Linked DNA regions of Homo sapiens: region 2 is linked to region 1. The links come from fine-mapping of genetic effects on gene expression. A gene starts in region 1. The other region holds a variant in brackets. All regions are shown on one strand. Distances are from middle to middle. Region 1 holds the start of PHACTR3 (phosphatase and actin regulator 3). Region 2 has its middle 5.3 kb from the start of EDN3.

Region 1 (5,374 bases):
TTAATCACAGGCATCCCAGCCCTTCCTCCTCCTTCTCTCATGGACCGGCACCACCTGCCCAACCCTCCGCTCCCACCCACAGAGGCATAAACTCACATACAGCCAAAAAGCCAAGTCCTCCATAATTTCCATTTCAAGTTTGCTTCCTCTTACTGCCAGGGAGACAAAGGGAGCTTAGAAGGATTCTCATGAGAAGCCACTCAACTTCCATGATTGGAACAGTTGTGGATGCGCCTCTCCAACCCAGAGAAAGGCAATCCATCATGGAGTGCTGAAGGCTGAATCCCCCATTCCTAGTAAAAGGATTAATTAAAACCTTAAGGGTCGGCCATGGCAGCCTCTGCTTGAAACTCTAAGGAAATTAACCTGCCCTCCCAGATAAAGAAAAGTCAGAGATTTATTCAGGCCGGTACCTTAGTTTGACCAAGTGACACAGTGTCAATAGTCTTAACAAAGAAATCTTCCAATACTTGCCCGGGTTTATTGTTTAAATTTTCAAATGGGGGGGGGAGGGATCCAGTGCCCACACAGCTGCCTGTAATGAGTCCTCTAGGCAGTTTATCGGGAAGCTCTGGTGTGTTCCAGTGCAGGAATCCCTCCCCACAAAGCCAGCCTTCACCCGGGCCCCAGGGATTCTGATGCCCACCATTTAACATCATCAAGTCCCCATCTGGGGTCGTTGCATTTAGAGAGAATAAGTCTTCAAAGGCAGGCGAAGCAACTTGTTATCAAAACAGAATCTACGAAGGAATTGTGCTTCTCTAAGATACAAAACTGAGTCCTGTGGCTTGATACCAAAACACCAGCTTTGATTCTTTTTTTGAACCCTACATTTCAGAAGCCCAGACTTCTCCCTGTGAAGTGAAAATTGCCTTCTGGTGGAGAGAGGTTTTAATGATCACTTTGCTTCCTGCGTCTCCATGGTGACAGGCGCACACAGCCCACCCCCCCCCCCACCTCCCCCCCCGCTTTATTAGGCCTTTCTTCCTCTCTGGAAAGTAATCAATCAAGCCCTATAGACGCCTTTGTGACCGGTTTATCACCTAAACAATCAACGCTGCCATGGGGGTGGAAGAGTGGACGGAGTCCACACGCTGTCACGAAACCGGGCTCTGTCCTGGCGCACGCCCTTCGTCTCCCTGCCGGCGGCTCTGCCCAGCACACCTGTCCGGGGGCTAGCGCGCCCAGGTGCGCCAGGCCCCGCTGGAGTCAGGCGCCTGGTGGAAGCCCTCAGCGCGGTGGCCTCAGCTGCGGAGCGCTGCCTTCCAGGAGCAGATGCCCAAGCGGGGACGTCCGGAGCTGGGGCCCGGCAGTGGGGAGGGAGGGAATGGCCCAGAACCGGCGCTGGGCGGAGGCGGCCACGGGTCTGCCTCTCTTCCCCCAGCCGGTCAGCACCCGAGGAAAGGAAGCCTCCTTCGAGGGGACGGCAGAGCTCACCAGCCGGAGAGGAGGGGAAGCTGCAGCGCCCGGCTCTACCCAGGAAATCAGCTCTTTTATGGACAAAGGGCTCCGAGGCGCCCCAGCCCTGCGAGACTGGGGATAGGAACCGCGGGGCCGAGCGCGGGTTCCTGCCGCGGCTCCCCGAATGCAGGCGGGGCGCGGAGCCTCGCGGGGTCCTGCTCTCAGCGCCACCTGCCTCGGGCCTCCCCGACCCGCCCGCCGCCCCCGCCCAGCCCGTTACCTGGGTTCTCCCCGGCGTCCGCGGAGGAGGTGGCCGAGGAGTCGGTGAGGACGCTGGGGTCACTCTGCGAGCGGCCCCGCGACACGAGGCAGCCGCTCCCGTCCTCCGACGCGGCCATGGGCCCGGCCGGCGCGGGGGCAAGTTAGAGCGAGCCGCGTGGAATCAGAGCATCCGAGGCGGCCAAGGTCACCGGCGAGGGGGCTGGAGGGGGCGTCTTTTTAAAAAAGAAAATTAAAAAAAAAAAAAAAAAAAAAAGGCCGGGAAAGGAAACGAGCTGGAGAAAGACGCCGGGGCTGGCTTCAGGGCGGGGAGACAATAGCCTCGCCGGCTGCAGCCAGGCGCATCCCGGCGTGCGCGGCCTCGCTTTGTTATTTATTCGTGTTTATTCCCATTCTTCAGTCTATATTCCAGGGAAAAAAAAAAAAGTTGAACCAGGAAATAAAAACTTTTTCTTGTCAGTGTTTATTGCGTGCTTGGGGCAGGGGGTGATGTCCTGGAATGTCTGGGGGCGCTCCCTCCCCCCACCCCACCCCCCACCCCCCCAGGAAAAAAGGGAAAAGGAAGAATCTTTGCTCTTGCAATTGCTTTAATCTGAAAGCTGTTCTTGGAGCATCTGTTGGAAAACATTAGGATTCTCCCATCATGCCGCGCGAGAGGAGCATGACGTCACGGGAGAGGGGCGTGAGAAGGCGCGTGGCCACTGGGAGGGGTCGCACATACCTGGACCGCGCGCCGGGGTGGGGGAGGAGGGGCTGGACCCCGGGTTAGGAGCCGCCCACCCCACCAAGCCGTGCTCTAGAAACAGGAAAGCTTCCTAGTCCCGTTTCCTCCCCTCCCGGAGGAAAGGGAACCCTGAGAGCCCCTAATTTCCCCAGCAGCTGCAGACAGCTGGTTTCCCTGGTCCTTCCTCTCCTGGGACTGGGAGGCCAGTGGGTCCCGACGCGCCCACCCCGGCACCGGAGGGGAGCGACCTGAGGCTTCCTCCCCGCAACCACCTGGCCTGGGCCTGCTAGGGCACCCCGGACCCTCCGAACCCTCGCTCCGAACCCTCCTCCCTGCCGGGGGGCGGGGGGGCGGGGGAGAGGGAGGAGGGCACGGGCGCTTTCCAATGAGGCTTTTCCTCAGACGCCCTTAGGAACCTGAGGGGCCAGGCAAGGGAGGCGACACCCCCCAGGGCTGCCACTCACAGAGGTGTCCTCCAGGGTGCTAAGGAGCGATTCTCACAACCCCAGCGGTGGTGTGGGGTGAACACAGGCAGGCAGCCGCTGCTTCCCCAGCCAGGGCAGGGAAGGAAGAAAGTCCAGGAAAGGGGTAGAGACGGGGGTGGAATGGTGGTGTCACCTGGCCTGGTCCTGGAAGGTGCCCAGAGGAGGAGGCATTTCAACAGACACCAGGATTCAAGGACCACAGAGACACCTGGGGGAGGACACCCCCATTTCAATTTCTCAACCCCATGGGGCAGCCCCGCTCTAAGCCCCCTTTGCAGGTGCTGGAAGGGGTGGGGGCAAGCGGGGAGAGTCGCTCACCAAGGGTCCTCCTGCTGGGGACAGAGCCCTCCCTAAGGCTGCCCCCATCAGATTAGCACCTACAGCAGGGCCTGGGAGTGCAGTGTGAGCGCTGGCAGTGTGGACGAAATCCCGGTTAAGCGCCAAGGACAGAACTGAGCGGGGTGGTGGTGGGGAGGGGGAATAAAGTGGATGTTCACTCCACACAGAGCTTTGGGCTCTTAGCAGCAGTTATTTCAGCAGCATCAGTCACCTCTAAAGAAAGGACTCATTCATTCATTCAGACTGTGTGCAGAGTCGAGTGTGTGCCAGGCACCACACCAGGCATTAGGGACCTAGCAGTGCACAAACACAGAGACGCCCCAACTCCTTGAGTCTTCCGGGAAAGGGGGAGGGTGAAGCCGAGAATGGTCACCAACACACTAATAAGATGCCCAAATAATCATTTAATTACAGTTGGCAATTAAGATCAGGAAACAAAGAGGAAACTGGTGGGAAACTGCTAGGAATAGATACGTTTTATCCACATAAAAATGTGCTGGCTGGATGGTGAAGTGGCCTGCCAGCCTTGGACTGAGCATTTTGCATGGGGACCTCATTCCTTCCTACAACTGCCCTGGTAGGTGAGAGCTACTGTGGTCTCCACTTTTGAGATGAAGGCAACTTCAAGAGGTGAGCACTCTTGCCCAGGTTACAAGCCAGCACGTGGAAGAGCTGGGCCACAGCCAATGCTCTTGGCCCAGGGTCTCTCCAAGTGGGTCTTCAACACCTCCCACTCCAAGTCCCCAGGGGCTGTCCTGACACACTGAGTACTGGCCCCATGGGAAGGTTTCTGAATCCTTGCCCCCAACCATGCCTTGGGCCCCTTCCGAGTCTGGGTGAGTGAACACCTGAGACAGTTCAGTTCCATTGGAAGGAAGCCTGCAGCTGACCCAGCCACGGCAGGTGCAGAAATGGTGGGGATGGGCAGGAAGGGATAGAGCCCAGAGACTGGCTATAGGTGGGGGGGAGGAGAAAGATCACACCAGAGGTCTCCAGCTGTCTGTCATTTGCCAACCATCCCTATGATTTTTAGCCTTCCCTATTTAAAACCTATCCTTCCATCCCTTAAGATTTGTCTTTAAATCAACTCTTTGCACTTAAACATATTTTTTCTTTTCTCTCTCTCTCTCTTTTTTTTTTTTTTTTGAAAGAGTTTTGCTCTGTTTTCCAGGCTGGAGTGCAGTGGCTATTCACGGGGGCAATCATAGTGCACTACAGCCTCAAACTCCTGGGCTCAAACAATCATCCCACCTCAGCCTTCCTAGTACTTGGGAGTACAGTGTGCACCTCCACACCGGGCCGACATGCATGTTAAAGGAAGCCTTCAATAGGACTGATGGAGCACAGCCTCGCTGGCTGGCATTGGTGGGGGGGACCACGGCACTAACTCAATACCTGAGTCCACTCTTGGCCTGAGCTGTCTCCTGTGTGGTTAAAAAGGGCCCAAGGGTGAGAGAGGAGTTCAGCCAGGCAGGCACCGAATAGAGACATCCTCCTTAATGTTACCATAAGGACAAAGAATGGAAGGAACTTTCTATCTAAGCCAATGTTCCTGCCTTGTCCGTGCACCACCAAAAATTATCCCTAGTCCCTTCAGATGGTCTACACAGCAGCACCCATTCACCTACTCCACCAAACTGTGTATGGATGAGGGTTAAAAACATATAAAAGGATAAGACTTGGCATTTGAGCTCAGGAGCCCACATGGAGTGGGGAAGCAGAAGATGAGATGCAACCAAGTTTTATTTCTTAGAAGTATATATTTTAGCAAAGCACTGTGGTTTGTTAAAGGTAGGTAGAGCTGGAGCTTTTCCTTATATTATTCTTTGGCTTTGAGATGTTCCATACTAAAAATAGTTTTAAATTTAAAAAAAGTTAGCAATCCCACCTCTACTGACCAATAGAAGATAATAAGGTCTCCGGGTAAATTGCCTGCCGGAGAGACTTTGGACTTCAAAGTCGGTCATCTCCAGACCATGACTGGCTTGAGCCCTGTGAGGATCTGGTCCCCAAGGTGTGTGAAAGGCACCTGTTTGGAGGAGGGTTTCCAGCCTTGAGGGCCCACAACAGGTTTTTGTGAAAGTCACCAATTGTCCCTCCTGAACAAGATCCCTGGCAAGGGGTGGATTTGGAAGGCCATTGCAGA
Region 2 (5,374 bases), 310 kb after region 1:
GAGCTCCCTTTCCTACTGTTCTTCTGGCTTCTGACGATGGCCAGGGCAATGACTCGATGTGTCTTTAACAGCTCTCGAACAGAGAGAGAGCTGTACAAAGGGATTTTTGAACAAAGGGATACAAAAGGAATGTAGCAGGCCATAGGCTTGTACAAAGGGATAGCAGGCCATAGGCTTGGAGCCTTTGTCAGGCTGTGGAATCGGGCTTACTGTGCATGGTAGTGATTGACATAAAATTCCTTTCTAAATTAATACACTTAAGTCAAGTAAAGGTAACCTCAATTACAATATGAAGTAATTCATTGTAAAGCCGGCTTGGAGACTTGGCAAGATCACAAAGCCTTCTGGGTTCCAGGCTAAGAAATGTGCAAAGGAAATATACAATTCATGTAACTCAATGGCAAGCTGGTGGTTTCCATCATTGTTTTGCCCTTGTGACAACTCAACAAAATTTATGCTAACATTATCCCCATCTCACAGATTAAAAAACTAAGGCTCGAAAAGGTCAAAGTAACCAGCCTACAACCATGCATCTATTAAGTGGCAGTCTATCAGGATTCAAATTTGACTCCACATGATTCCAGGGACAGAGTTCATAATGCTTAAGCAGCGCTGCCTCTGGAACTCATACCCAAGGTTTTAATGGTTCCCATTTTCTTCTGTGTATCATTGACAACTCACTGCCTCTCCATCTGTCTAGTTTCCATTCCATAATCTCTGATGGAAGGTCATGTAAAGGAATGATGACCTCTACAGAGGACACGAATGAATAGGCATTCTTCTCCGCAGACGTCTGCCAATATTCCTTGATCCTCCTTCACTGCCTCAGCATCCAATGTGCCCCTAGGAGAAGTCATGTATCAGGACACTGCTGGGGCTCGGCCAAGTGCACGGCTTGGTCATTGTGTTTATTTTTCCTCAACTTTTTCCAAGTCAGCAGATGTGCGACTGATACTTTGAGTCCTTACCACTTACATTTTGATTCAAAACCCAGCCATTAAGAATGTTGCAATTTATCTCAGATAAGCATCCCCTCAAGTTGTCTCTTTATGTGCTTTATGATTCTTTGAAGATTGTTTTTCCTTTAATTTAAGGGATTTAAGGGAGAGTAACATAATACATTATGTAGTTTTCCATCATGCTGGAATTTCTTCTCCCCACCCACCCACAGCAGCAGGAACTCTGGACTTACTCAAAAACCAAGTAATTAAGTGCTTTTCCATGTTGTCCAACTCTTAGCTGTGTCTTCCCTCACTGGCACGTGGTTCATTCTAAGATGCACTGGAGGAAGTGCCAGGCTCCAAATCCCTTGCTTTACAAATGAGGTACACTGTGTATAATATTCTCCGTGAAATAAAATGATCACAATGCATTCTGAACTTTAGTGCTATCAATAAAATGTGTTCAAAGCCTAAGAGAAATCGGGTGATCCCAAAAGCAACAAAACTTGTTCAAAAGAGTCCTGAAGTTTTTTCCTGTGTTTTCTGCTGTGGACATTTGCTGTTGTTGCCCTGCCAGCATCCCCATCCCTCCAGGTCTGGTAATGGACCACATCTTCCCCTGGGGAACCACCCCTCCCCTTCTCTGTCCAAGTGGTTTCAGGGGACGCTCCAGGGCCAGGCTTGTGACTATGGATTAACTAATCAGACCATACATCATCTTTGAGATAGGAAGAATAATGGTATCCCCAAAGATGTCCATGTCCTAATCCTCAGAACCTGTGAATATGTCAACTAACATGGCAAAAGGGATTTTAAGGGTGTGATTAAAGACATTGAGATGGGAGATGACCCTGGATTATCGGGGGTGGGGGGCGGTGGGCAATGTAATTTTTAAAAATGTTCTTTTAAGAGGGAGGGGGAGGGTCAGCGTCAGAGAAGCTGTGACAATGGAAACAGAAGTTGGGCTGGTACAAGGCTATGAGCAGAGGAACACAGGCAATGTCTAGAAAATGGAAAAGGCAAGGGAATGAATTCTTTCCTTCAGCCTCCAGAAGGCACATAGCCCTTCCAACCTATTTTTAGACTGCTGACCTCCAGAACTATAAGATAATCAATTGGTATTGTTTTAAACCATTAAGTTCATGATGATTTGTTGCAGCAGCAATAAGAAATTAATACAACTTTAAATATAGTGATTTGTCCAGAGATAGGCCCATGAGCCAAGCCTGGCTGCT[C/A]AGGACCCAGGAGATTCAGTTCTGGGACTTTGAAAAGAGGCTCTTCTGTTTTTCTGGGGAGCCGCTGAGAAAATCAGATGAAAGCTTGCTGGTGCCAGCAGTACTTGTCATCATGAGGTGAAAAGTCTCTCCGGGAATGGTGCCAACACAGAGTAATCGGTAGAAAGTAGAAAGTAGAAGTAGGGAATCAAGGCTAAGTCATAAGCCCTGGACCCAACATGGCTCCTTGGACCTTTCACCTACATCAGCCAAGACATCTCCATCTTTGCTGACACCAGTTCAAGTTAGGTTTCTTCCACTCGCAGTCAAAAGCATCCCGATGTGTTTTGTCTCAACTTACTGTGAGAGTGGAGTAGGCTGTAAAGAACATGGATGCTGCTCATGGTAATTGTCTCCAGAACCAGCAGCAGAATGGCTATGTTGGTTCATTGGTCAGGGAATGAGAAGAGCTACTGAAATAAATGCTTAGTTTTTTTCTAGAAAGTCTGAAATTTCACAGTTCTAGCAGGCAAGACATAAGTGCTCGTTCAAAACCATCTCTGGTGGGAGTAGAAACCATGCAGGGAAGAGAGAAAGAGTGGCCATTTGGACCCCGAAGCAGCACATTATACAACCATCCAATGCAATGCTAACCTGGAGCCTCATACCCATAGACAGACCACTTCCTGATGGAAGGGCACAGATTCCATCTCTCAACAGCACCCAGCCCTTGGGGGAAAAAGGTAAAGGAAGTCGATTTGTTTTTGGAATCTCTTGCATTTTGGTATTTGTTTTATTTCAGCAATGCCTCTAACTCATACCTTTCCCATCCCTCCCAGGAGCCCTGACCCAGACCGCATGCACGCACACACACACACACACACACACACACACACACAGTCTCAACTTATCTCAAACAACATGTGTGTACTTTAACTGGAGCCTTCAATGCCTCAGCCAAAGTTGGGAATTTCAAGCATCTCAGCAGATACATGGGAGAGATGCTTTTGAATAAGTTAAGTCAACATGCCACAAACACACCTGTGTGTTTTAATTACCTTGAAGTAGCCTTGACTTTTATCAGAGGAATTTTTCACAAGCTGTATCCCTTTAAAGTTCATATAGTGATGAGTCCCTGTGTCCACCAAATGCAGCCAATCACTGGATGTGGAAAACTTTCCAGCAGCTGCCAAATACCTTGATCTGTTTGCAGAATAAAAATATTCACATAAGCACTCCTTCATTCTCACCTCATTGCATGAAATCCTGACCAAAGCCACTTTAAGTCCCAGATCAAATGCTGCCCCTTCTAGCAACCTGATTTGCCTGTTTAAAAAAATAATATGTTGAGATCCTCCTGTAGCTGCTCAAACATTTAGACTTGCAGGAAAGCATAATGGCCTCACTCATGGGCTTTGAAGTCAAACAGACCTGGATCAAAATACTGACATCCCCCTTGCCTAGCTGTGTGACCTTGGGCAAGTCACTGCACCTCTTTGAGACTCAATTTCCTCATCTGTGAACTGAGGATAAGCGTTGTCGCACAGATTAAATGACAGTGAAGCATTGAATATAGGACCTGGAGCAAAATAAATAAGCATTGGATAAATGTTACCCAGCAGTGATAGTAGTTTTAGTAATTATGGTTATGTGCAAACTTTTGCCTCTCACCAGATTGGAAGTCCTTTGAGGATGGTGTATGAGTTATCCATTGCCACGTAATGTGCATTACAAGTGTTCCTCAAACTGCAATGATGGTCAGCAAAGCATCCAGTGGCTAGGCAGCTCTGTGGACTGCCTAGACCCCCTGCTGGACTCAGTCGTTTGTCTGGGGATAGCTGCTGGAGGATCCGGGTTGACCTTGACTGAGACAATGAGAATTACTCACCTCTACTCCCCAAGTCTCTTTTCCTCCAGCAGGCCAGCCAGGTATGTCCTTCTCATAGCAGGAGAAGGGGCTCCAGAGATGAAAGCTTAACACACGGGCCCCATGCAAGCCTCTGTTGGCTCCATGAACATCCCAATGGCCAAACCAAGTCCCATGGCCAAGCTGTTGTGACTCAGGAGGGCACACCATGGCAAAGGGTGTAGTAAGAGAGGTGTGAAGAATTGGGGCTATTTGCAATCTACCACAAGCAGGAAATGAAGTCCTACAACAGCCTAAAGTGCTGTCGTGGTCCTGAGAAATCCATTTGTAGATGCTGGCTGAGCTGAACATGAAGTTGGGCTCCAAACCTAAGTTGCCACTCTTAAACATCAAAAGCAGTGGTTAAAAATAGAGGAATTTATAGAGTGCAGGTGATTCATTGTTGTTGAGGCTTGTGGGTCCACCCCCCCACAAAAAAAAACAGCTAGCTTTTTTTCCTTACATGAAACTATTTAAACTTCTGTCCCCAGCGCTAGAGAAAAAAAAGATATTGAAGGTTCTGCATTCCTAGTATGTCACCTACTTTTCCTCCTCCCTCACACCTGGGAACAGTTCAAACTTGAAAGAGAAGTAAGGAAATGAACGGTGAGAGGGCAGCAAAAACCAATGGGACGGAGGAGAAGCCACTGCGGGTGGGGGAAGGAAGAACAGAAATCTAAGCTGGCTGCCGGATTCTGGAACTTTCAAAACCTAAAATAAGGAATGGACTTCACAGAACTTCTCAAGCTAGGGCACAGACGCATTTTCTTCTGAAAGAAATTTCACAATTGTGTTTTTAATGAGCTCAAACCACTTTAGCAGGACACAGTTAAACAAAAGAGTAACACAATCAAGCCCGGAAGTCATAATTCAGATTCAGAAATGCAGGGGGGGCAGGATTTGACCTGGTACCTTCTCAGAGACGTAGGACTCCGAGAGAGCAAAATCTCCTGCCGGAACGTGCTGATGGATTGGGGAGGAAATGGGAATCATTTGGCTTTAAAAAAAAAAAAAAAGAAAAAAAAAACCTTAGAATTAAACTCTTAGTTACTGAGATGTCGCAACTCACATCACTATGAAAGTCATGTAAAAGGGTTCTGTGTTTGTCCCTTTATTCATTCAACTACTTATTAAGCACCTACTGGGAGTCAGACACTTTTTCTAAGTACTAAGATTACCCCTGGGAACAAGATGGTGCCTCCATGAGATGCCTCCAAGAACTAAGACAAAACAAAGAATTAACTAATATGACATTGGGCTTGATGAAAGAGACAGTAATGGGAAGGGCAGAGAAAGATGTGTAGCGTGAAGAA

The links. PIP is the estimated chance that this variant, and not a neighbour inherited with it, causes the effect.
Region 2: its variant is the best candidate, but not a certain one, in a credible set for the expression of PHACTR3 in breast (GTEx, PIP 0.76).

What each region holds. Positions count from the first base shown.
Region 1 is chr20:59,601,440-59,606,813 of GRCh38, reverse strand. PHACTR3 (phosphatase and actin regulator 3) reads right to left here and starts at 2,274. Exons shown (of 13, transcript NM_080672.5): 1 at 1,682-2,274. The coding sequence starts at 1,799. RefSeq lists a silencer at 2,453-2,653.
Region 2 is chr20:59,292,660-59,298,033 of GRCh38, reverse strand. No RefSeq gene overlaps it. Among named protein-coding and RNA genes, the nearest start is that of EDN3, 5.3 kb to the left of the region's middle. The variant C/A (reference allele first, on the strand shown) is at 2,177.